Linked DNA regions of Homo sapiens. The protein of the gene in region 7 purifies or fractionates together with the protein of the main gene of each other region. This does not show direct contact. Each region holds a gene or a part of one and is shown on either strand. Other genes may lie near its edges.

What was found.
Region 1: the proteins of SEPTIN11 (region 7) and WDFY1 purify together in Homo sapiens (affinity purification with mass spectrometry; one large-scale study listed by BioGRID and IntAct). This does not show direct contact.
Region 2: the proteins of SEPTIN11 (region 7) and CEP72 purify together in Homo sapiens (affinity purification with mass spectrometry; one large-scale study listed by BioGRID and IntAct). This does not show direct contact.
Region 3: the proteins of SEPTIN11 (region 7) and SUCLG1 fractionate together in Homo sapiens (co-fractionation; one large-scale study listed by BioGRID). This does not show direct contact.
Region 4: the proteins of SEPTIN11 (region 7) and PEDS1 fractionate together in Homo sapiens (co-fractionation; one large-scale study listed by BioGRID). This does not show direct contact.
Region 5: the proteins of SEPTIN11 (region 7) and BTBD2 purify together in Homo sapiens (co-immunoprecipitation; one large-scale study listed by IntAct). This does not show direct contact.
Region 6: the proteins of SEPTIN11 (region 7) and MPST fractionate together in Homo sapiens (co-fractionation; one large-scale study listed by BioGRID). This does not show direct contact.

The regions. Positions count from the first base shown.
Region 1 is NC_000002.12:223,877,092-223,879,335, forward strand, and holds part of WDFY1 (WD repeat and FYVE domain-containing protein 1), read right to left. Parts: intron 1,640-2,244; coding exon 1,580-1,639; 3' UTR 1-1,579. UniProt on the Homo sapiens protein: Positively regulates TLR3- and TLR4-mediated signaling pathways by bridging the interaction between TLR3 or TLR4 and TICAM1.
Region 2 is NC_000005.10:615,340-618,839, reverse strand, and holds part of CEP72 (centrosomal protein of 72 kDa), read right to left. Parts: intron 1,012-3,500; exon of another isoform or gene 991-1,011; intron 1-990. UniProt on the Homo sapiens protein: Involved in the recruitment of key centrosomal proteins to the centrosome.
Region 3 is NC_000002.12:84,431,781-84,435,280, forward strand, and holds part of SUCLG1 (succinate--CoA ligase [ADP/GDP-forming] subunit alpha, mitochondrial precursor), read right to left. Parts: intron 1,656-3,500; coding exon 1,572-1,655; intron 1-1,571. UniProt on the Homo sapiens protein: Succinyl-CoA synthetase functions in the citric acid cycle (TCA), coupling the hydrolysis of succinyl-CoA to the synthesis of either ATP or GTP and thus represents the only step of substrate-level phosphorylation in the TCA.
Region 4 is NC_000020.11:50,150,924-50,155,084, forward strand, and holds the start of PEDS1 (plasmanylethanolamine desaturase 1), read right to left. Parts: upstream 2,801-4,161; 5' UTR 2,715-2,800; coding exon 2,594-2,714; intron 393-2,593; exon of another isoform or gene 289-392; intron 1-288. Other genes in the region: PEDS1-UBE2V1 (TMEM189-UBE2V1 fusion protein), read right to left, coding at 2,594-2,714. UniProt on the Homo sapiens protein: Plasmanylethanolamine desaturase involved in plasmalogen biogenesis in the endoplasmic reticulum membrane.
Region 5 is NC_000019.10:2,009,215-2,012,714, reverse strand, and holds part of BTBD2 (BTB/POZ domain-containing protein 2), read left to right. Parts: intron 1-3,500.
Region 6 is NC_000022.11:37,022,742-37,026,241, reverse strand, and holds part of MPST (3-mercaptopyruvate sulfurtransferase), read right to left. Parts: intron 2,491-3,500; exon of another isoform or gene 2,315-2,490; intron 2,051-2,314; coding exon 1,432-2,050; intron 1-1,431. UniProt on the Homo sapiens protein: Transfer of a sulfur ion to cyanide or to other thiol compounds. Also has weak rhodanese activity. Detoxifies cyanide and is required for thiosulfate biosynthesis. Acts as an antioxidant.
Region 7 is NC_000004.12:77,015,752-77,019,251, forward strand, and holds part of SEPTIN11 (septin-11), read left to right. Parts: exon of another isoform or gene 1-3,413; coding exon 3,414-3,500. UniProt on the Homo sapiens protein: Filament-forming cytoskeletal GTPase. May play a role in cytokinesis. May play a role in the cytoarchitecture of neurons, including dendritic arborization and dendritic spines, and in GABAergic synaptic connectivity.

The DNA.
Region 1 (2,244 bases), on a different chromosome or scaffold from region 7:
TAATGCAGATCATTCCAGTACATGATGTGCGTGACCCCCTTTCCTTTCCTTACGTGTGTCACACAGCCATTAAGACATTTTAGTTTGATCGCCTCCTTAAACCTTTCAGTCCCTCTAAGACATCATTATAAAACAAATTTAGTCCTTTAGTTTTATCATATGGAATGACCCTATTGTCCTGGTATGATCCCAACACAGTGATGCAGTACTGAGGTTTTTTTTTTTTAATCAATATCTATTAGTAAGATTAGCAAAGATACTGTTGCTATTTTTATATTTGTCCTTTAAAAAGGTAGGCCCTTCTCCACTTACTTCCATATCCCTAGAGAAATAGATATATGTACTGTTGTCAAAAAAAATCAAACACACAAATACTGGAATATTAAAAGACAGGCTCCTCATTTCTTCTCTTCCTCATCCTGGTACACAGTGCCCAAAAGCTTTAGAAATGCCATTATGAACAATAGCTTTTGCTAGTTGTTAGGAAAGCAATTTATGAGTTGGGAATTATTGTGGAAGACTTGATGGATGATTATAGCTCTGGGTCACTAACTTCTTTTTATGAAAACATGAATAATACTAGTTATAACTCAAAGTCAAAATAGTGTAAAAGCTGTGGAGTGCTTTTGTAGGGGGTATATTAAATTGCCAGAATATTGCAGAGGCTCATCTTGGAACAAGAAGTAGAATGCTGTTTCAGTTAAGAGGACTGGGCTGTTTCAGGCAACAGACTGATCATTTCGCATCACAGTGGTGGCTGGGTTTTCCATCAGTCATTACTAATGGCAATGAGAAAAAGTCAGGCGGCTTGTGTGACTCCCATGTTAACAGCACCATAAAAAAGTTTTGCCCTAGGAATTTGGGGGAAAGGGAAGAATGCGGACTGCCTTTGTTATTACAGAAATTTCACAACTTACTTAATGACAACCCCGAAAGTTCACCTGTGGCATACTGGCTGGGAAGAGAAACAACTGAAGCAAGCCAATGCTAAGTGCAGATTATGGCACTACCTGAAAATAACAGATCTCTTTAAGAAGTTTATCAATAACTAAGTGTAGAGGATATTCACATACTGCCAAGTCATAGGGAAAGGTCTCTGGTTTCGTAAGTTCCTAATGCCACCCCTCAAGAAAGAGAGAACAAGTCTTCCCTCCCCCAGCTCCTGCTCTGACAACAGCCACAAGAACCCTGGAAGGCCCCCTAGGCTAAGTGAAGTGTCTGTACTTGTGACTGCTTTGAGAAGGTTCTAAGCATTCACTTTTTTGTTTGATTTTTTGTCCCCGCTAAAACTCATTTGCTAGCTCATTCTTTCACTACACATTAGCTGTTCATGGGGAAGTTTTGCTGAAGTAATTCCAGTCTTCAGGGAACCACTATGGACAGACCTTTTCCATATTAGTCCCCATGGGTAAGTTCCACAAATGCCCCAAAACACACCTTTACATTTTCTTTTTAAAAATGTTGATTTGTTTGTAAGTGGCTACTGTCCATTCACGAGACAGCGCTGTGGAGCTGCGTGAGAGGGACTTCATTTGGTGGAGCTGCTGTTCTTAGGTGTGGACGCCGCCCAGCTCTCAGATCAGTGCGGAGAAAACCCAGTCGCCAGACTGCAGCCCACCACAGGTGTCATGTCCCAGATCTACAAGGAAGGAAGAAACGCAGAAAAGGCAGCAGTGATAACCAGGTCTAACGGCAAGAGTCAACACAGACAAACAAACGACTGTTAAACCTGAAAAGGTGTCAAATTAATGAATTTTCTCATTCTCCTCTTTCATAACACCTCCTTAAGATTTATAGAAAGAGGCCAGGTGGCTGGGCACGGTGGCTCACGCCTGTAATCCCAACACTTTGGGAGACCGAGGCGGGTGTAGCACTTGAGCCCAGGAGTTCAAGACCAGCCTGGCCAACGTGGCAAAACCTTGTCTCTACCAAAAAAAATACAGAAATTAGCCTGGTGTGGTGGCACATGCCTGTGGTCCCAGCCACTCAAGAGGCTGAGGTGGGAGGATCACCTGAGCCCAGAAGGCAGAGGTTGCACTGAACCGAGGTCACACCACTACACTACAGTCTGGGTGACAGAGCGAGACCTTGTCTCAAACAAAAAGATTTTCAGAAAGATAAAACAATGTAGTTCACTAAAATGTGAATAAAGCATATAGGTAGTGTCTTTACACATAAAAATTAAATCATAATAATGTTTTAGTATAAATTCAATTTTTTTTTTAGAAAAGCCCATCAGGAATA
Region 2 (3,500 bases), on a different chromosome or scaffold from region 7:
CCATCTGTGCCCTTCCTTGTAAAGTCCAGTTTAGTGCGGCCAAAACCCCCACCCTCAGTATCTGCTCAGGTTCCTCATCCCCAGATCCCATAGGTGGTGTCTGCTCACCCTGGCCTCTCTTTCGCAATAATCCTGTTCAGTTGGTTTAGCCCAAATCCCCTTACTCCTCATGTGTCCTCTCAGTCATTTTCCATCCACTGCCCCCACCCTGACCCTAGGCTATAAACTCCCCCCGGCCCCTGCTGTACTTGGAGTTGAGCTCCATCTCTCTCCCCCACTGCAAAATCCCAGCGCAGTGGCCCCAGGCCCACCTCAATGGTTCTGAATAAAGCCTTCCTCACTGTGCCTGACAAGGGTCATTCAAAACATTTCTTCCTCTAACAGTATATGTAAAAAGATTGAAAGACAAACTTTAACACATGTGTCCTATTGTGGAATAAATCCCTTTATTTTCCCTCTTACACATTTCTGTATTTTCAGCTTTTCTCAGAGAGATATGTATCCTCGTAATCTGAAAGAGGCACCTAGAACTCAGTGCAACTCCTTTGGAGTTGGAATATCAGCACTGACGAGCAAGGAACGTACCTGAAGTTTCGGCTTATGTTTATCTCTACAATACCTCCAAGCCCACACGCTTCTTCCCACCTTTACTGCCTCTCCCTCCAAAACCGTCTCTCCCCAGGAACACCCCTCTACTTCATCTCCCGCCTCCACTTCTGGCTGCTCAATTCTGTCACCCCTTGCAGCCATCACCATCTGAAACCCACTCGTCGGGTAACCTGTCTGCTGTCCTCCTGTTACAACTGTGGTCGGGCTGTGCAAGCTCCACGCACCCCATAAGCAGTCACTACATCAACATTAATTACAAGATGAAAGTTTCCGTAATCAAAAAGGCAGTTTAGATCCGAATACATCAATACTTTCCTGGGAACATTTATGTTTTAGAATATGTTTTGGTTTTTTTGTTTTTGTTTTCAGATGGAGTCTTACTCTGTTGCCCATGCTGGAGTACCGTGGTGCGATCTCGGCTCACTGCAACCTCCACCTCCTAGGTTCAAGTGATTCTCCCGCCTCAGTCTCCTGAGTAGCTGGGATTACAGGGACACGCCACCACATCCGGCTAAAACCCCACGTTTCCCTGTTTCCTCAGGTAGCCCTCAGGCATCGTCTCAGGTGCAGCTAAACAGCAGGATGCTGCCTGGTTTTGCCCCACTTGGAGGCACACAGACAAGCAGTTCATTGTCCCCCACACCCTGCCACCGGGACAGGGTCAGGAGGGGACAAGGTGCAGTGACCTTTGGCTCATGTTACTGAAAGAAAAGGGTTTCCGTGACAGTCTTGTGGTTTCCTGACCATGTTGGCCAGGCTGGTCTCGAACTCCTGACCTCAGGTGATCCATCCACCTCGGCCTCCCAAGACTACAGGCATGAGCCACCACACCCAACCAGAATATGTTCTGATTAAGTTTAAAATTTGGTTTGAGCTCTTCCAGTTCCAGGCAACATGGAGAGGACACATTTCAACCTGCTCCTCCCGCATATTAGACCCACTGCCCTGGAGGAAAATATACGGAACAAGCATTGGGGGACTGAAAGGAACAGAAGCCAACCAGCCAGGGGCCTCGGCACTCGAGAGAGAACCCAGCGCTGAGTCCCTGGCTTGACTCTGGGGTTTTGTTTATGCTTATTTACTACACATCCCACTCTGGGTGCCACAGAAGTCGGCAGCCCAGAAACACAAAAAGACCAAAAACCGTAAGCCTGCTCTCGATGGCCAAAGGACCAGGAGGGGCCTGGCAGGACAGACTCTCTGTACATCATCAGCCCTCCTGCAACCACACACACTGTTCACATCATCAGCCCTCCTGCAAGCAAACCCCCACCCACACACACAACAACACATACACACACGCACACACCCCTCGTCCACTTGGCACCAGGAGGGGCCTTGCAGGACAGACTCTCTTCACATCATCAGCCCTCCTGCAAGCAAACCCCCACTCGCGCGCACACACACACACACATACACACACACACACACACACCCCTCGTCCACCTGGCCTTGCGCAGCAGCCAGCACCGGGGTGTGAGAATGGATCCTGACTGCTGTCCCGGCCTGGCTAGAACGAGGTGGTGCCCTTCACTCTCCCAGCCAGTAGGGTCTGCCAGAGGCCGTGGGTGAGGCAGGAGCTCCATGACTGTCCCGGCAACAAGGTGGCACCCAGCAGGCTCGAGTGAGGAGTCTTCTCAAGTAAGGGGATTTAAACAGGAAGCAGAGTCTCATGACATCATACCCAGCATGTCCACAATATGATAAAAAATGACCAAGAACCAGAAAAATGGCAATTTGAATGAGAAAACACAGTCAATCAACAGATACCACCAAGAGAGAACACAGAACTTAGGTCTAACAAGGATTTTAAAGTGACTGTCATAAAAAATACTTCAATGAGCAATTACAAACACCTGAGACAAAGGAAAAACTAGTCTTAGCAAAGAAACAGGAGATATAAAGAAGAAACAAATAGAAATTTCAAAGAAAAATACAATAACAAAAAATCACAAGAGCAGTTTAATAGCAAAATGGAGATGACAGATGAAAACTGTAAAACCGTAGAGAAAAACTAAGAGAATCTGTCACAAGCAGACCTGCCCTAAGACAACTGCTGAAAAAATTTTTTCAAATATAAAGGAAAAACGAAAGAAACCTAGAGCATCGTGGAATGAAGAAAAAATAACAGAACAGATAAACATGCAGATAAATATGTTTCCTCCTGAGTTACTGAAAAGGCTAGGTATTTAAAAAAAATCATAATATTAATACGGTTCTCAAGGTATGCAGAGGAAATACTTAAGACAACTAAATTGTAAAGGGGAGAGGATAGAGACCTAAATGGTGATAAAGTTTCTATATTTCACTTAGAAGTAGTAAAATACCTGTACAAGTAAACTGTGTTGAATTACATAAATACATTGTAATTTGTATAGCCACCACTATGAAAACCATACAAGGAGATATACACCAAAACATAACAGATAAATCAAAATGAGATACTAAAAATATTCGAGTAAGTCACAGCAGGCAGGAAAAGGGAAACAGAAGAAAAAACACAGGAAACAATCAAAAAACAATAAAATGGCACACTTAAGTTCTAATATTTAACAATTAGATTAAATGTAAATGGCCTAAAACACTACTACAAGACAGAGATTAGCAGAGTGAATAAAAATAATGAACCAGGAAACTAATTTCAAATATAAAGATACAGGTAGGTTAAAAGTTCAAAGCAATGGATAGGAAAAGATACGCCATGCAAAAACCAATCAAAAGAAGCTACCGTAACAACAGTAATATCAAATAAGACAGATGTCTCAACAAAGAAAATTACCAGGAAAAAAGAGGAACAAGGCCCAGGCACCGTGGCTCACACTTGTAATCCCAGCACTTTGGGAGCCCAGCAGAGATCACCTGAGGTCAGGAGTTCGAGACTAGCCTGGCCA
Region 3 (3,500 bases), on a different chromosome or scaffold from region 7:
TATCATTGCTCTTGCATTTAATATTTAAAAAATCACAAAATGCTACATTTATTTCTGTTGGTAATATTATATAAATGCTAAATGGTGGTTGGTTCCTGATATTCTAGGAATATTCTAGGGCTGTAACGAAGACAACCCTCTTTTTGTTTTAGCTCCTTTATCAAGCCTCTTCTGTCCCACAAAATTATTCCCAGATAACTCCTTAGAAATGAACATTTTAAGAAAATGTGTATCTGTGTTGCATGCTGATGTTACACCAGAGGAAAGAATAAACATTTAACAAATTTCTTTGAGTAAAGAAACTATTTGATGAAGTATGCTGCAGATAAATCACCCACAAGTTTTAAGACACAAGTGCCAGTGAGTGACAGTGAGTACCCTGACTGCTCGTGTTCTGGATCCAGAGTGGATGATGACAGAGCATGCATATCAGAGCCATACTACACACCACATTTAAGAACAAATTCATGGACAGGGTTAAAGTAAATGTTCCCTACAGACAGGCTGCCGTTTTTTATTTTTAAATTACAAACTTACTGAGGGCAGGATTGATTTCTTTCTTTTCACTGCATCTCTGAAAAATGGAGTGGAAGAAGAGAACCGGCATTTATTAAGTGCCAACCGTGTGTCAAGTCCTATGCTTTGGCACACGTTAGATCTGTCATTTCCTAATTTTCTCAACTTCTCTGTGAGATAGGCATTATTATCCTCCACTTACAAATTCAAAACTGAAGCTGGAAAAGAAGGAATCGGTAAGCCTGTTTCAAACCTTTTCTTATTCTCTGTCACACTAAAAAGTATCTTCCACTTATATTGTGCTTTGCATGTACAAATGCTCAATTAATGTTTTCAATATTTAATTTATGAATTTGAATCTTAATAAAAACACTCCAGAGCTATATGTTACTTTTTCGTAAAGATAATTCTAAAACATTAACAGGTATTCTAAGAACTTGAAAGAATATTTATTAATATGAAAAGGAGGAATTTGCCTTGGCTTTTGGCAACAAATAATGAAATTATTTTAAAATGTAAAAATTTGTAATTTTTACTTTTTCAAATGGGAGGCAGTATAGTGTGATAAAAAGAGAGGTTCTGAGGAAATGAACCTTCCTCAACCTTGACTTTCTCACCAATAAGGCTCTAACAGTACAATTTTCCAGCTCAGAGGCACCTGAGAGGCTTCCCTCAAGAATGAGACACTGAATGGCAAAGAATTCAGTAACTATAAAGCACTGATGAACATAATGGCAATGATAACAAAAGTCCTAATATAAGGAACCATTTCTTCAGAGCAATCAAACCAAGTGATGTTTTCAGGCACCAAGGTGCTTCGGGAGCCACGTGTTCCAAGATGTTAGTTCTTCAACCTAGAAATGAAATCTTGGACCATGAATCTTGAAACAACTACAGAATAACTTTACACTTAAGCAAATTAAATTTGAGATCGTAACATCCTTTTCATAAGAGTATCAAAATCTTTTGCAAATAATAAAATCAATAATTATTATTATACTCATCCAATGAAGACACCACACTCCAATAAAATGATTTTAGCAAAAGTCCCTCACCAACGCACAAAGACTGCCCCAATCCAACTTGCGTTGTTTGGTGAACTGCTTCATAAGTCAGGGTGCCAGATCTGGACACAATGCCTTAACGAAAGAGAATTCAAAAATATTAGATTGTGTTTCTATGTTAGACTAAAACATGGTAAACTAAATTACCAAACACTTCGAGTGACTAACATAGGTATAAAATTCATTCCATGATTTGCCATCAAAATCAATAGTATCTTCAAACGATGAAATGAAAAGGAAAGGCTTAAATTCAAGCAGGGGGGTTTTTTAATTTAGACAAAGGAGAAAGTATATTATTAGTTAAGGTTATTTTATGACTATAAAAACAATGCAAGAAAGACTTAAATTACCTCTTCTGAGAATCTTTATGAAGAAGCTAGTATCAGTATAAATTTGGTAGGTACTAATCATACCTACAGTGGCAGAATGTAATAGATTAGACTTATACTACCTTATGTAGTCTGGGTATTTGTCCCCTCCAAATCTCAGGTTGAAATGTGATGCCCAGTGTTGGAGGTGGGGCCCGGTGGGAGGTGTTTGGGTCATGGGGATAGATCCTTCATGAATGGCTTAGTGACCTCTCCATGGTAATGAGTGAGTTCTCACTCTGTTCCTTTACATGAGAGCTGGTTCTTGAAAAGATCCTGGCCTCTCTCATTCCCTCTCTCACCATGTGACACGTCTACTCCCCCTTCACCTTCTGCCATGAGTAAAAGATTCCTGAGGCCTCACCAGAAGCTGAACAGATGCTAGCACCATGCATGTATAGCCTGCAGAATCATAAGCCAAACAAATCTCTTTTACTTATAAATCATCCAGGCTCAGATATTCCTTTGTAGCAATATAAAACAGAATAATACAGTACCCAAACTATTAAACCATCAAAACTAGCATTAGTCACATTTTAAAATACTACCTATCTTCTCCACAACTATTTTCCCAATGATTTTCAACCAATATATAGGCTTTAAAATCAATATAAAGAAAACTGGGGAATAAGGTCAAGATCCCTCTGGAATCAAGTCTCCCACCTAATTTCCTTTATAAATGGACCTGTGTGAAAGCACTTAATTTCACATCTGGATTAGGTGTGCGCCGAGGGAGGAGAGCCAGTGGGGGCCAGGGAGGAGTGACAGTTAGATGTCTTCTCTTGTAGTTTACTATGCTTGGCTGAGCTTCCAGAAAGGTAATTTATTCAAAGCCACAATCTATGTAATACTTTAGACAAACAAAAAAATTAATCCAGGGTGTCCATGGTTTACTTTCCTTAAACTCCTGCCTTGGAGCAACTCTGAAGAACTCAGAAGACCCTTTTCTAACAATATGATCACCCTACCAGGGCAGGTAGAATTCTTGTCAACCTGAGACAAAAACCATAACTATAAGTTACCTCAACTTCCGTGCTACATGTTTACACTCTTAAACAAAGTGCTATGTCACCATTATTGTATACTAATGCGTACTAAGTGTGTGACCTATGCATAAACACATCTTCTCACTATGAATTTGGGCACACAATAACTTCAGGTTCTACATACCAAATTCAAAGTCAAATTCAAAGAATGGTGTGTACGTAACTTAGTCATTGCTAAGCAGACCCTACAGAACACTGTCAGATTGCTCTTTTAGATGCATTTCACTAGACAGTGACAACTAAATCCTCGACGATGCCTCACTTCACGTGGAACTCTGCTCTAACTCGCCAGCCCAGCAGAGTCCCAGCTTCCCTCTCCAGACTTGTTTCTTACTATTTCCCTACCTAGTGAAACTGGGTTATTCCTCATTGATATTTCATGCTCTCCTATCTTTTCATATTTGTTCTGCTTAAGATGGAGTGTTTCACCTCCACCATCTGACAAAACTTCTAATCATCCTTCAAGGTCCACATTAAATGCTACTTTCTCTTTGAGGTCTTTCCTG
Region 4 (4,161 bases), on a different chromosome or scaffold from region 7:
GACCTCAAGTGATCCACCCACCTCGGCCTCCCAAAGTGCTAGGATTACGGGTGTGAGCCACCGCGCCCGGCCAGCTCCATTTTTTTCTGTCTTGTTCACCATTCTGCCCCCAGAGCCTAGAACATGGACTAGAACATAGGTGTTCAATATGCACTGAGCCTGGTCTCTCACTTTTTCAGGCCCAGAGAGGTCAAATACTTCCCCAAGATCACACAGTGAGCAGATAGAAGCAGAGAGGCCAGTGGAAAGGAAGTTGGAGAAACCAGTTTGGCAAGTCTCCTCCCCTACCTCCAGGTCTGGAGGAGATAAAGGGCCTTGATTGCAGATTTGGGGCACCAGGCTGTCTGCAGACTCTGATTCAGGCATGGCTGTTCTTCAGAGAGTGAAGGGCACTTGGGGAAACCAGAAATGGACAAATATGCAATTGATCGTGGTGGAGTGGGGAAACAGCAATCCCTGGGGAGGCTCAGAATGCCTGGGAATGATTTGGGCTGTCTGAAAGTAGGTAGGGTTCACAGGAGCAGGCAGAGCTGGACACTAAAGAGGGAGGCCCTTGAATCCTTATCCCCAATTCCCAGGTGGGGAGTTTGAGGACCAGAGAGGTGAGGCGGATCCCCCACAGCAAAGGTCAGACTACTGTTAACAACAGGGAGGCGCCAGGCACAGTGGCTCACGCCTGTAATCCCAGCACTGTGGGAGGCCGAGGTGGGCGGATCACAAGGTCAAGAGATCGAGACCACCCTGGCTAACACAGTGAAACCCCATCTCTACTGAAAATACAGAAAATTAGCCGGGCATGGTGGCGGGCGCCTGTAGTCCCAGCTACTCAGGAGGCTGAGGCAGGAGAATGGCGTGAACCCGGGAGGAGGAGCTTGCAGTGAGCCGAGATCACGCCACTGCACTCCAGCCTGGGCAACAGAGTGAGACTCCATCTCAAAACAAATAAAACAAAACAAAACAAAAAACAACAAAAAAACCCACACAACAACAGGGAGTGCCTACTGAATGCCAGTGGACGATCTCATTTCCACTTCCTAACACGAAGGGGCAGATAAACTTTAACTTGCAAGGAAACCAAGGGGAAACAGAGACGGAAAGTGGCTTGGACCAGGTCATACAGCTGAATAACAGAGTCAGGATGTTAACCCTGGCCTACCCCCAGGAGAGCAGGAGGTTTTAAGTCCATAGGCTGGGTGTCTTGGGTATAGGCCTGAAGAAACCATAGCGGCATGGACCAGGTGCCCAAGTCAGGTGTGAAAAATCACATACAGAGAATGGAGTGGTCTAGGACCCAGTGAGGAAATGCAAATGGTCCGTGGCCATGCCGCCTTTTAAGGAAGAGACGGCATGGAACCCAGGCCAGTGAGGGCAGAAAGCTAAGGTGCTAGTGACCCCAGGCCCACTCCAGGCAAGGGCTGCATGTGGTGCTTGGTGGCTGCCCCACAGAAAAAGGAAGGATGTCAGGATATTTGACAAACAAAGCTTCATTCCATGGTGACACCCAGGTAGAGGTGCCTCCCAGTCACCTGAACCAGGAGTTCTCAAAGGCACTTCCTTAACTCCTGGGGATATAGGGCCCTCCTGAGGCCAAACAGTAAAATTCCTAGGGCTCACGTAGGAGTCACAAAAGTGGGTGTAGGGGGGGTGCTTGCTGGAGCATATACAGTGAGCAAAGCAGGAAGAAGCTAGGGAGAAACCGTGGCCTGAGGGAAAGGGACAGAGAGGGAGAGGTGAACTCCAACTTATGATCTGGTCTGGGGAATATGGGGGTTCCAGTCCCAAGTCCTAAGGAAGGGGCCAATACATGGATGTGAGGGAGGGGCAAGAGCTAGAGTTGGGGCTTATGTACAGGGGAGCTTACAGTGGGGTACATTCAGTCCCCTCACTGCCTGGGATCCAGGAATATGGGGCAAGGACTGATGCTCACCACTGGAGGGTTGGGGAGAGGATATCGGTCTGTAGCCACTGAAGCTATCACTAGGATGGGGTTTTGGGGGAAGGGTGTGGGGGGTACCGTGCAGCTGGAAGCCCCTGAGTTAGGGTTCCCTGGGCAGAGGGGCTGACATTCCCAGGTTAGGGAGGTGAGGTCATTGTTTGCAGCCCAGGGCCTGGGCTAGGGCACAGAGGAGGTACTAGGATGTAGATTCCAGATCTGGGGAACCCAGGATGAGGTGTGACTTTTAGGGGCCTGAGGGCAGTGCTTACAGCTGAAGGGCAGCTTTGGGCTTGGACCGGGTCCTGGGGGGATGAGGGGGTGGGGTTCTAAGTCTAGGAGCACTCTTCACAACCGAGAATGCCCCGGGGCTAGGATTCCGTATCTGCGGGTCCGATGGGAGCTCCGTTTGTCGCCCAGGGAGCTCATGGTAATTTCTTGATCTGGGGAGTGTCTCTGCAGCCAGGAAACCCCGGGGCCAAGGTTCTGGCTTGGGTTCGGAAGGGACACTGGGGTGGGGTCCCCGAACTTGCTATTTGCAAGTTAGACACCCGGGCTGGAGTTCCGCATCTGGGCCCGAGGTTGGGACTCCAGTCTGGGGTCGCTGTCCGCAGCCGGGGCTGGTGACCGCAGGCCTGGAGGGGGGCCCAGAGGTCTTACCTGGCGAGTAGAGCGCAGCCAGCTCGCGGGCCCCGGCGTGCTGCGCGCCCCAGCGGCAACAAGACGCCTCGTCCTCGTCCAGCTCCAGCTGCTGGCCCGGCCAGTTCTCGGCGCCCGCCATGGCCACTCGCCCGATCGGCCCGGTGCGCTCTGCTGGCGGCGGCGGCGGCAGGGCCGCGGAACCGCGGCGAGATCACGCCGCCCAATGACCGCCCAGCGCCGGGCGCGGCGGCGGCGCGGGCGGGGTCCTCGCCCGGCCGCGCGTCACAGCCAATCGGGGCTCGCGCCGGAGCCGCGCAGGCCAATCGGACGTCGCTGAGCCGCAGCCAACCGCCGCGAGCCGGAGGCTGGGACGCAGCTGGACGCAGCTGGGCGCGGAAGCTTGGGGCGGAGGCGCGTGCCCGCCTTCCCAGCTCAGCCCCGGCAGGGCTCCCGGCTCCAGCCCACTGGGAGCTCGCGGCGCGTCGCCGCCCAGCTAGGCTTCGGTTCACGGGCCCATGCAATGGGCCGAGGCAGGGCCCAGAAATGGGCATTTCTTGAGCCGGCAGCGTTAAGCGCCCACTGTGTGCAAGGAACGCGAGGGCAGGGCGCCGGGCTGGGGCCGAGGCCAGGAAGCATTTGGCGGGTGCTCTGTACGATGCTCCCTAGCGAGGCCGATGGAGAGTGGGCTGGTTTATCAAGCCCTACTGTGTGCAGAGGTTTCGGGTGCCATGTGTTCATCAGCTGTGTGCCAGCTCTGTGCTGTGCGCCCAAAGAGGAGAAACGTCGAGCCTGCCCCGCATCCTCCCCAGCTCATGTTCTCCCGGTGGCGAGGACAGTAAACTAATGAAAATGACAACTAGGGTCACTATGAGATTTGCTGAGCGCTTAATATCTGTCAGGTGCTGGACCAAGAGCTAGACGAGCAACATTTATTTGACTCTTAAACACCAATGGTATTGCCTCCTCAGAGAGCCCCACCACCACCACCCTGCTCAAAGGTGCCCCCTCCTCCAGTCACTGTGACATCACCCTGTTTTGTCTTCACAGCGCTTCTGGTGGGGATTGAGCTTGCAGTCCCTGTCTCTCCTATCAGAGAGCAAGCTCCTGAGGGCAGAGAACAGCTTTGTTTACAGCAGGGCCCCCGTGCCAGGATCGGGGCTGGAACATGGTAGAAGCTCAATAAATGCTTGATGAATGAATTAAGGCTCAGCCAGATGCGTCTAATACTTCGGCAGATAAATGACAGCAGCAGGGATTTACCCCAGGTCTAACCGACAACAAAGTATGCAATAATTTCTCATAGAAATTCCATACAGGCAGCCGGGCGCGGTGGCTCACGCCGGTAATCCCAGCACTTTGGGAGGCCAAGGCGGGCGGATCATGAGGTCAGGAGATCGAGACCATCCTGGCTAACACGGTGAAACCCCGTCTCTACTAAAAATACAAAAAATTAGCTGGGCGCGGTGGCGGGCGCCTGTAGTCCCAGCTACTCGGGAGGCTGAGACAGGAGAATGGCGTGAACCCGGGAGGCGGAGCTTGCAGTGAGCCGAGATCGCGCCACTGCACTCCAGCCTGGGCGACAGAGG
Region 5 (3,500 bases), on a different chromosome or scaffold from region 7:
AGGAGAGGGCAATGAGGCCCAGCGGGAGATAGCAGCAAGGTAAGGTGGGCGGGCCTGGGACAGCGGACCCTCGACATGCGGGGTTAGGGGCGTGGACCCCCACTCAGCTCAAATCCAAGTACAACTTTTGACTCCCACGAACTTAACTAGGAATGGCTTCTCGCTGACCGGAGGCCTTGTGAGGACACTTGGTCAATGCACACCAGCCTCCTGTTCTCACAATAACAGGCTGGAGAACAGAAAATACATTCAGAAAAGTCTAAGGGGCCGGGTGCGGGGGCGCACGCCTGGAATCCCAGCACTTTGGGAGGCCGAGGCGGGCAGATCACGAGGTCGGGAGATCGAGACCAGCCTGGTCAACACGGTGAAACCCTGTCTCTACAAAAATACAAAAATTAGCCGGGCGTGGTGGCGCACACCTGTAATCCCAGCTACTCAGGAGGCTGAGGCAGGAGAATCTCGTGAACCCAGGAGGTGGAGGTTGCAGGGAACCGAGATTGCGCCATTGCACTCCAGCCCAGGCGACACAGTGACACACCATCTCAAAAAAAATAAAGGACAGGCTGGGCGCGGTGGCTCACGCCTGTAATCCCAGCACTTTGGGAGGCCGAGGCGGGCGAATCATGAGGTCAGGAGTTTGAGACCATCCTGGCCAACGTGGTGAAACACCGTCTCTACTAAAAATACAAAAAATTAGCCGGGTGTGGTGGTGCACAACTGTAGTCCCAGCTACTTGGGAGGCTGAGGCAGGAGAATCACTTGAACCCGGGAGGCGGAGGTTGCAGTGAGCCGAGGTTGCGCTACTGCACTCCAGCCTGGGCGACAGAGCAAGACTCTGTCTCAAAAAAAAAAGGAAAAAAAATAAAAGGAGAAATCCTGTTTGCTGTTCACACAGTGGAGGTGGCCACGATGAAGGCCTGTGTCCTTGTGTTCATATTGAGGGCTGAGGAGCAGGAGCAGGAGGGTGGGTCTGTCTCCGGGGTGGCAGAGGTGGAAGGGGAGGCAGGAGAGGCCGGCACCGTTGGGGCAGCCTTTATTGAAAAAATTCACATATGAGTGGACCTGTGCAGTTGAAGCCTGCCTTGTTGAAAGGTCATCTGTGTTTCCTTAGCATTTCAGGAGGGTTGAAAATGGAGAGGGGGCACTGACCTGGTCCAGAACGACCCCCTGAGCAAGTGATGTTGATGGAGAGTGCAGTGCCCCAGGCTCAGGGATGGAAGGCCCAGAGCCCAGAGGGGCTGGGCAGGTGGGAGCCATGGCAAGGCCGGAGCAGGAGGAGTGAGGGAGGCCCTGTGGCCCAGTGTGACCAGATCCGCATTGAGGGTGGAACGCGCCGTGGATGGGCCCAGGAGCGAGGCTGGGGAGTAGCAGCTGCAGACTCCAGGCAGGAGACAGCAGCGGGCTCGGTGGGGACGGCAGAAATGAGGGGTAGAGGATGCAGGTCCTCTTTGGAGGAAGCGAGTTCCTGTGGCCAGGAGAGGAGGCAGCTTGGCAGGTGAGGGCGTGGGGGGCTGTGGTGGGGGTCCCCAGACTTCTGGCTGGAGCATCACAAGCCAGGACAGGCTCAGGAGGGACAAGTACTGGCTTGGATGTGTTGGCGGGACCTGGGGCTGAGAGGTCCGCAGAGCAGTGTGTCCCAAGTGCTCTGTGCCTCAGTTTCCATGATTGAAACAAGGTCACTCAGACACATCTGTCCTGGGGCTGTGGGAACAAACGGACCCGATGGGTTGCTGACAGCCACAGGCCACACAGCAGAGAGAAAGAAAACAGCAGCTGAGGCCGGGCGCAGTGGCTCACGCCTATCATCCCAGCACTTCGGGAGGCCGAGATGGGCAGACATCTGAGGTCAGGGGTTTGAGACCAGCCTGGCCATCGTGGCAAAACCCCGTCTCTACTAAAAATACACAAATAAGCTGGGCGCGGTGGCACGCACCTGTAATCCCAGCTACTCAGAGTCTGAGGCAGGAGGATGGCTTGAATCCGGAAGGCAGAAATTGCAGTGAGCCAAGATTGCGCCACTGCACTCCAGCCTGGGTGACAGGGCGAGACTCCGTCTCAAAAAAAAAAAAAAGGTGGGGGGATGTCGGGACGAACTGGGGGTGCTGGGATAAAGTCTGGAGTTCACCGATGAGCAGAGAGGGGCCGGGCCTTGCCAGCTGTGAGGAGAGCAAGTGGCCTGGGCTTGGGCCTGGTCCCTGGCGGGGGTGCAGGGTGAGCTGAGACATGGCAGAGAGGAGGCTGGGAGCAGGCCTTGGTGGTGGCCCCAGTGTCTGGACCGTCGCGCAGGGGTCGGCGTTTGTGCTGGGGAGGAGGCCAGGGGTTGCACGCGGCTTCTGGGCTGTTCCCCGGTCCTGGATGGGCACCCGTCCATCTCAGCGCGCTGGAGCCTGGCACACAGTAGGCACGCAGTGATTGTGCATTGAATGATCTGTGGGAATTAAACATCTGATTCTCTCATGGGGCTTGAAGGGAGAACTGAAGATCTCCAGGGTTGCACTTTTGTAGATGTGCACATTGGCTGGTCCCATGAAGTTAGTATCTAAAATACCTTTTTCTTTTTTTTGAGACGGAGTCTCGCTCTGTTGCCCAGGCTGGAGTCCAGTGGCGCGATCTCCGCTCACTGCAAGCTCCGCCTCCCAGGTTCATGCCATTCTCCTGCCTCAGCCTCCCGAGTAGCTGGGACTACAGGCACCCGCCACCACACTTGGCTAATTGTATTTTTTAGTAGAGACGGGGTTTCACCATGTTAGCCGGGCTAGTCTCAAACTCCCGACCTCAGGTGATCCGCCCACCTCGGCCTCCCAAAGTGCTGGGATTACAGGCGTGAGCCACCGCACCTGGCCTCCCCTCCTTTTTTGTTTTTTTGAGACAGAATCTTGCTCTATTGCCCAGGCTGGGGTACAGTGGCGTGATCTCCGCATGCTGCAGCCTTCAGCTCCCTGGCTCAAGCAATTCTCCTGTCTCAGCCTTCTGAGTAGCTGGGATTACAGGTGTGCGCCACCACGCCCAGCTAATTTTTGTATTTTTAGTAGAGACAGTATTTCCGTCATGTTGCCCAGGGTGATGGTGAACTCCTGAGCTCAGGTGATCCACCCACCTCGGCCTCCCAAAGTGCTGGGATTCCAGGTGTGAGCCACCGCGCCCAGCCTAACGTATCTTTATTCACTCTATCATGGAACTGTCAGCATTGTAGCGAGGTCTAGAAGTAGAACAATCTGGGTGGGTGTGGTGGCTCACGCCTGTAATCCCAGCACTTTGGGAGGCCGAGTCAGGCGGATCACGAGGTCAGGAATTTGAGACCAGCCTGGACAACATGGTGAAACCCCGTCTCTACTAAAAATACAAAAAATTAGCCTGGTGTGGCGGTGGGCACCTGTAATCCCAGCTACTTGGGAGGCTGAGGCAGGAGAATTGCTTGAACCCGGGAGGCGGAGGTTGCAGTGAGCCAAGATCACGCCACCACACTCCAACCTGGGTGACAGACTGAGACTCCGCCTCAA
Region 6 (3,500 bases), on a different chromosome or scaffold from region 7:
CGTCGTGTGTCACAAAGCCCATGTAAATGTGGCAGGGATCTGAACCCCAGTCTGGCACCACCAGCTAGCTCCCCTGTGTTGCTCATTCCCCTGGGGCTGAGATGGAGAACCCAACAGGATTAAGGTGGTGCTCTCATTAGGCTGAACCACATGAAACTGACACCTGTGTAGGTTCAAAAATGGTTGGATATCAGCTGTTTCCTATGGTTCCGGTAACACCAACATTGCTTTGCAGGATTCCATGCAACAGGGACCTTCTGTATTCACCAAACCTCTCTGGAACATCGACTCTGTGCCAGGTACTGAGCTAATCTTCAGGATGCATGAAGAGCAGGGACAGTCCTTGCCCTCAGGCCATCCAAAACAATGCTGGCCCATGGTGAGCCCAAGCGGCTCCAAACCCAATCTGTAGCCATGGGAATGCTCTTCAGAGAGCTCTCTAGGGGCAGTGGTCAGTTTCTTGCACTCTTGAAGGCACAAGAGAAAGGGCTGGGGAGTTCCTGGTTGCTCACGGCTGTTAAGTGCGCAGGCTGCCGAGTCTGAATCCCGGCTGGGTTGTTTCTTGAGACCTTGGGCCAGGTTCCATTTCCTCCTCTGTGCAATGACAGTATCTACTTACACGGGATGTTTGAAAGACTCACACTAGCGTGACCACTGACCAGCCTGCTTTGTGGGGACTCCTCCTCGCATTATACAGAGCTTACCCACAGGCTTCTTGCCTGAGGAAATCCAGCCCACAGGCAGAAGGCTCTGCCCTACCCACTTCTGTTTAATCCCCCTTCCACCCTCAGTTCTCCAAGCTTTGGTCCCTGGAAGAGACTTTCCTTTATGCAGCCCCCGACTCTGCCTTCATTCCACCATCCTCAGGGGCATGGGTAGCCCTGATCAGGACCATCCCTCTGGGTTTTTCTCTCATACTGGGGCCTGCCCCCCAACATTCCACAGTGACCCCCCACACCTCTAGTGTTGGATTGAGAGCTGTTTGGGCAACCAGGGTTCCCAATGAGCTAGGGAGAGTCACTGCCCAAAGCACAGGAGGGGAAGGGCCAGTATTATGGTTCTGCTTAACAGACAAAGTCACCGAGGCAAGTGGAAGTCAAATCTCCTTCCCCACCTCATGCAGTGGCCTTTAAAGGCAAGGTCAGGCTGAGCGGGGAGGGTCACCTGAGCCCAGGAGGTTGAGGCTGCAGTGAGCCATGATTGTGCCACTGCACTCCAGCCTGGGCGGTAGAGCCAGACCCTGTGAAAAGAAGGCAAGGGTAGGGAAAAGGGGGAAAGGAGGGAAGGGAAAGGGAAGGAAAGGAAAGAAAAAAGGAAAGGAAATGAAAGCAAGATAAATTAAAAAAATAAAAGAAAGGTCAAGTCCAGGGCACTGCTCAGGGCGTAGAGGCCGCGCCCCCGACGACCTCCTGCCCCCTTCCCCCGCGTTACCGTCTCGGGGCTCGGGCTCGGTGCCGCGGAACCTGCCAGTGGCTCGGGAGTCCACCACCTGGAAGCGCCGGGATTCCAGGTTCTCCTTGATGTCCTCGTAGGTCTTGATGAAGGCGGGGTCGAGCTGAGCGCGGAACTCGGCGGGAGCAGGTTGGCTCTTGCCGGAGCTGAGCGGGAGGTTCTGGCGCAGCCAGTGGCGGAGGCCGCCATCAAGCAGTGACACGGCGTGGTGGCCGAAGGCGCGGAACATCCACCAGACGCGCGGGGCGGAGTAGAGGCCCTGGTCGCTGGCGTCGTAGATCACGACGTGGGTGGCCGCGCCCACGCCCAGGCGGCCTGCGTACTCCGCGAAATGCTCGGCCCCGGGCAGCATGTGGTCGTAGGGCGAGGTGCGGTCGCTGCACTGGTCGATGTCGAAGAAAGCGGCGCCCGGGATGTGGCGCTCCTCGAACTCGCGTCGCGCGTCGCGCCCCAGCTTCGGCAGGTACCAGGAGGCGTCCAGCAGCTGCAGAGGCTGCCCAGCGCGCGGGGCCCGCAGCGCCTCCGCCACCCATTGCGCCGACACCAGCGCGCGGCAGAGCTGCGGCGAAGCCATGGCGGCGACACTCGGGCTGCGGGCCTGGGCGACAGGGAGGATGTCAGAAGGGAAGCAGGGAGAGGCCGCTGTTGGGGCTAGGGCTGGGGCTGGAGCATGGGCGAGGGCCGGCGGGGGAGGTGCGGCCCGTGCAGGGCAGAGTCCAGGGAACGCAGAAACCAGTGGTGGTGAACCCGGGCACAAAGGTGGGTAGCCAGGGGCCTCCCTCTGCCAGGCCTCATATAAACACAAGCTCCGAGTGACCCAATGACCATGACCTCCCGGAGAGCCCCAGGCCACGCCCCTCACCTCCACTTGCTGGGCAGGAGGGTGGGTGGAGGTATCCTAGGGCAAGGCCCTGCTGGCTTCAAGGCACAAACAGGGGCAAAGTCTCCACCCCTCCCTAAGATGCAGCTCGGCTTTATTTGCAACCAAGTCCCAGACGGAAGTCATTCATTCACTCATCAAGCATTTATATTGGCGACCTAATAGGAACAGTAGCTGGAATTTACTGAGTCCTTGCTGGGTACCACTGAATCCTAACAATATCCTAGAACAATGCCTGACACAGTAGACTCTCCAGTATGTGTTGAATGAGTGATCTTAAGAGGCCTGGTATATTATTGTCACCGTTTCAAGGAGGACACTCAGGCTCACAGAAGTGCACTAACCTGGCCTGGTGCGGTGGCTCACGCTTGTAATCCCAGCACTTTGGGAGGCCCAGGCAGGTGGATCACCTGAGGTCAGAAGTTTGAAACCAGTCTGGCCAACATGGTGAAACCCCGTCTCTACCAAAAATACAAAAAATTAGCCGGGCTTAGTGGAGGGCACCTGTAATCCCAGCTACTCGGGAGGCTGAGGCAGGAGAACTGCTTGAACCCAGGAGGCGGAGGTTGCAGTGAGCCGAGATCGTGCCATTGCAATCCAGCCTGGGGAACAAGAGCAAAACTCTGTCTCAAAAACAAAAAACAAACAAGAAAAAGTGCACTAGCCTGACCCGGCGGTGCCAGGCTTCTCACTAGGCAGTCAGTCTGGCACCAGAATCCGGACTTCTCAGACACACACTCTGTGCAGGCTCCAGGAGTCTGGCGAGGCCAGGTTTTGCCTGTCCAGCCTGGGCTCTCTCTGGCCCTTCTAGCAGCAGCAACAGTGACTTCGCACCTCCCTCCCTCTCCTCTCTATCTTTCCTGCATACCAGAGACAGTGCACCAGCTCGCCAGCCCACTATGCCAGGCCAGCCCACAGCCTTCCTGGGTGTAAACTTCCCAAACACTTTAAGCCCTTTGTGCTGGGAAGCCACCGTTGTGCAGGTGAGAGGAAAGGGCCCCTTCTGCCAGGCAGAGGCTGAGCCCCCACCAGGGCACATGGCTGGGTGTGTGGAGTATGGGCTGCAGATCAGCCCTCACTTATCCCCTGTGTGAGGCCCAACCTTGACACCCACTGCATGCAGTCCTGCCAGCGAAATGAAGGGGGCAGGTAGAGAACAACATCTGTG
Region 7 (3,500 bases):
AAAGGCTCTAGAATTGTTGGAAGAATCTGGAAAGCAGATTCTTCCCAGGAAATAGGCATGATGGGGTGTGAAAGGAAGGTTGCCACAAGGGAAAATGGCTAGACTTGTGCAAAAGAATGAATGGACAAAAGATCACCAAGGGGTTTTGGTCCCATTACGAAGTGAGTGTTTAACTAGTAGAGCCACTGAGATGGAAGATACACCTTACTTCTTGGGAAGTAGTGAGTTCCCATCGCCAGTGGTTTGTAGATAACAGACCCTGTTTCAGTCCACTTGGAAGAGATACTGTAGCAGGAATTCTTAAGCAGGATTGAACGTATAATAAGCAAGATCTCTTCCACCTCTAAAATTCTCTGGTTGTGGGTATTGAGAGCTACATAATAATAATAGCACCTGACATTTTTCACATTTCTGGAGCATTTACTATGCACCAGGAACTGTTCAAGACTTTCCATTTAATCCTCACAACAGTTGCATAGGTAGGTGCTGTTATTATTCCTCCCTCATATATGAGGAGACTGCAGCACAGCACCTAAGATTGCATGGCTGTGGGTAGTGGAGGTAGAATTGGAACCCAGGCTTTGGCTGTCAGGCTACACTCTCACCCTGTGTACTGCCGCCCGAGCAGAGCAGTGTACCATCAGCCTCGGCATCCATGGATTTCACCAACCATGGACCAAAGATATTTGGAAAAAAAAAATGCAACAATAAAAACAATAATACAAAATATATATATATATGTGTATATATATAGCATATATATATATTTTGTATTATTGTTTTTATAATATATATAGCATATATATTATATATGCTAAAATATATATATAGCATATATATACACACACATATATATATATACACATATATATATATATACACATATATATATATATATATATATACACATATATATATATATATGGCCAGGCACAGTGGCTCATACCTGTAATCCCAGCACTTTGGAAGGCCGAGGAGGGAGGATCACTTGAGGCCAGGGGCTCAAGACCAGCCTGGTCAACATAGCAAGAAAATAAAAAATAAATTCTACAAAAAAAATTTTTTTAAATAGAGTATAATAACTATTTATATAGTGTTTACATTGTCTTAGATATTATAAGTAATTTAGAGATGATTTAAAGTATACAGGAGGATGTGCATAGGTTATTTGTAAATACTATACCATTTTATATCAGAGATTTGAGCACCTGCAGATTTCAGTGTCCATGGACAGTCCTGGAACCGGTACCCTGTGGATACTGCAGGAGGTCTGTACTTTTTTATAGGAAGGTCAAAATCTCAAACTGAGATGGCACTCCTTTATTCTGCTGTAGAACTGTAATTTGGGATGTCAGTGTGGGATTCAGGAAGTATCATGAATGACTGCTATGTAATTTTTCTTTATATTCCTATCCTTCTAGATAATTTTTCATTATTTTCTAGTCATGGAACTATATCTTTGTTAAACTTATTGGAAATAAAATACCCAAGAATTTTTGCTCTCTTTCTCTCTTTATCAGATTAATAGAACTGAATCTCTGACATTCCAAATTAATCCTGCTCTTTAAAGAAATTTTCTTTTAGGCTCTTCATTACAAACTATTCTTGCTGATCAAATTCCACGTAATGTCTGAGGAAAACAGATTCCACTGGCAGTTGCTTTTGTTACATTTGAGTGGAGAAATTTCCTTGGTCATTACACCAAAATATTGACCAGAAAGGTCCTGTTGCTCCTCAACTTCAGGGGAAACAATAGGGTTCAGGTCTGAAACTCAGACTTGTTTGAGAAAGATAATGTGCTTTCTTTCCTTCTTAGGGTGTGAGATGAACTAGAACATTTCAATATCTTGAGCGTCCAACAAAATGCTACTTGGGCAATCTGAGCCAATGATTATGCCAAGTTCTTTGTAGGAGAGGAATTGGCTTGAAAACTTTATCTTCTTTCTCAGTGTATCTATGGTGGAAGAACACTGGATCAAGGAACTCTAAATAATAATTCTTGGAGCAGCTATTTCAAATCTTATTCTTACATGCTAATAGAAAAAAGATAGGATTATTATTTCCTCCCTCACTCAGAATGCAGTGATAACTACCAAATAAACCAATGTGAAAGAGTCAGTTGTCTTGGACACCATCTCTACTTCAGATAAATCTGGGTGCATAGCTTGAGCCAGTAATTTGGGCTAAAGTGTGTTTCGGACTTAGAAATTTGTGCAATAGTCAACTGTCTAAAGCAGTGTTGTTCAAATAGAACTATAATGTGAGACACACAAGTATTTTAAAATTTTCTAGTAGCTACCTTAAAAAAGTAAAAAGAAATGTGAAATTAATTTTAAGGACTTAACCCAATATGTTGCAAAATATAATTTCAACATGTATTCAATATAAAAATTATTAGATATTTTAGGCTGGGCACGGTGACTCACGCCAGCACTTTCGGAGTAATCCCAGCACTTTCGGAGGCCAAGGCGGGCGGATCACAAGGTCAGGAGATCGAGACCATCCTGGCTAACACGGTGAAACCCCGTTTCTACTAAAAATACAAAAATTAGCTGGGCATGGTGGCCGGTGCCTGTAGTCCCAGCTATTTGGGACGCTGAGGCAGGAGAATGGCGTGAACCCGGAGGGCAGAGCTTGCAGTGAGCCGAGATCGCGCCACTGCACTCCAGCCTGGGCAACAGAGCGAGACTCCATCTCAAAAAAAAAAAAAAAGATATTTTAATGTAGGTCTTTGAGATCCAGTGTATATTTTACAATGACAGCATATCTCATCGTGGACTGAATTTTCACCAAAAATATTTTATCTGTATTTACATTTTGTAAAATTCACAGCTAAAAAGTTAAATTTACATACAGGTTTCTCCTAACATACCTTAAAGATTTTCAATATGAAATAAGTGCCAAAAAGATACTTTATCTTTAATCTTTGTGTCTACCTTGCCATCTACCTTGGTCTTTTTCAGAAGATTTGAGTTTGAAGCAAAGTGAAATGCAGTTTTGCCAAAACAATAAAGTTGCATTTAATTGAAAAATATTTTACGTTGCTTCCATTTTAAATTTAGATGTAAACTAATTAAAAGTTAGATATTCAATTTCTTGTTCCTACAAGCTGTATTTCAGGTGCTCAACAGTCACATATAGTTAGTGGCTACTGCATCGGCTAGCACAAGTCTTAAGCTTACTTTATAGTTGCAAAGACTCATACACTTTTCCCTTGAATCTAGCTCGTGTCTCATACTCAGTGTTTGGTTATAAGGGGGGTGGGATACGTGACATCCACCCACCAAACTGCAGCCTGCTTTTCCCTTGTCACCAAGTAGAGGCCTGCAGAAGGAGGGAGAAGATAGAGACTGGTGGAAACCAGTCTGTCAGAGCAGGGGAAAGTAACTATTCTCTGTCCTTTTGCTTGGCAGGTCCATCTCCCATTTGCAGTGGTTGGCAGCACCGAAGAGGTGAAGATTGGCAACAAGATGGCAAAGGCCAGGCAGTACCCCTGGGGT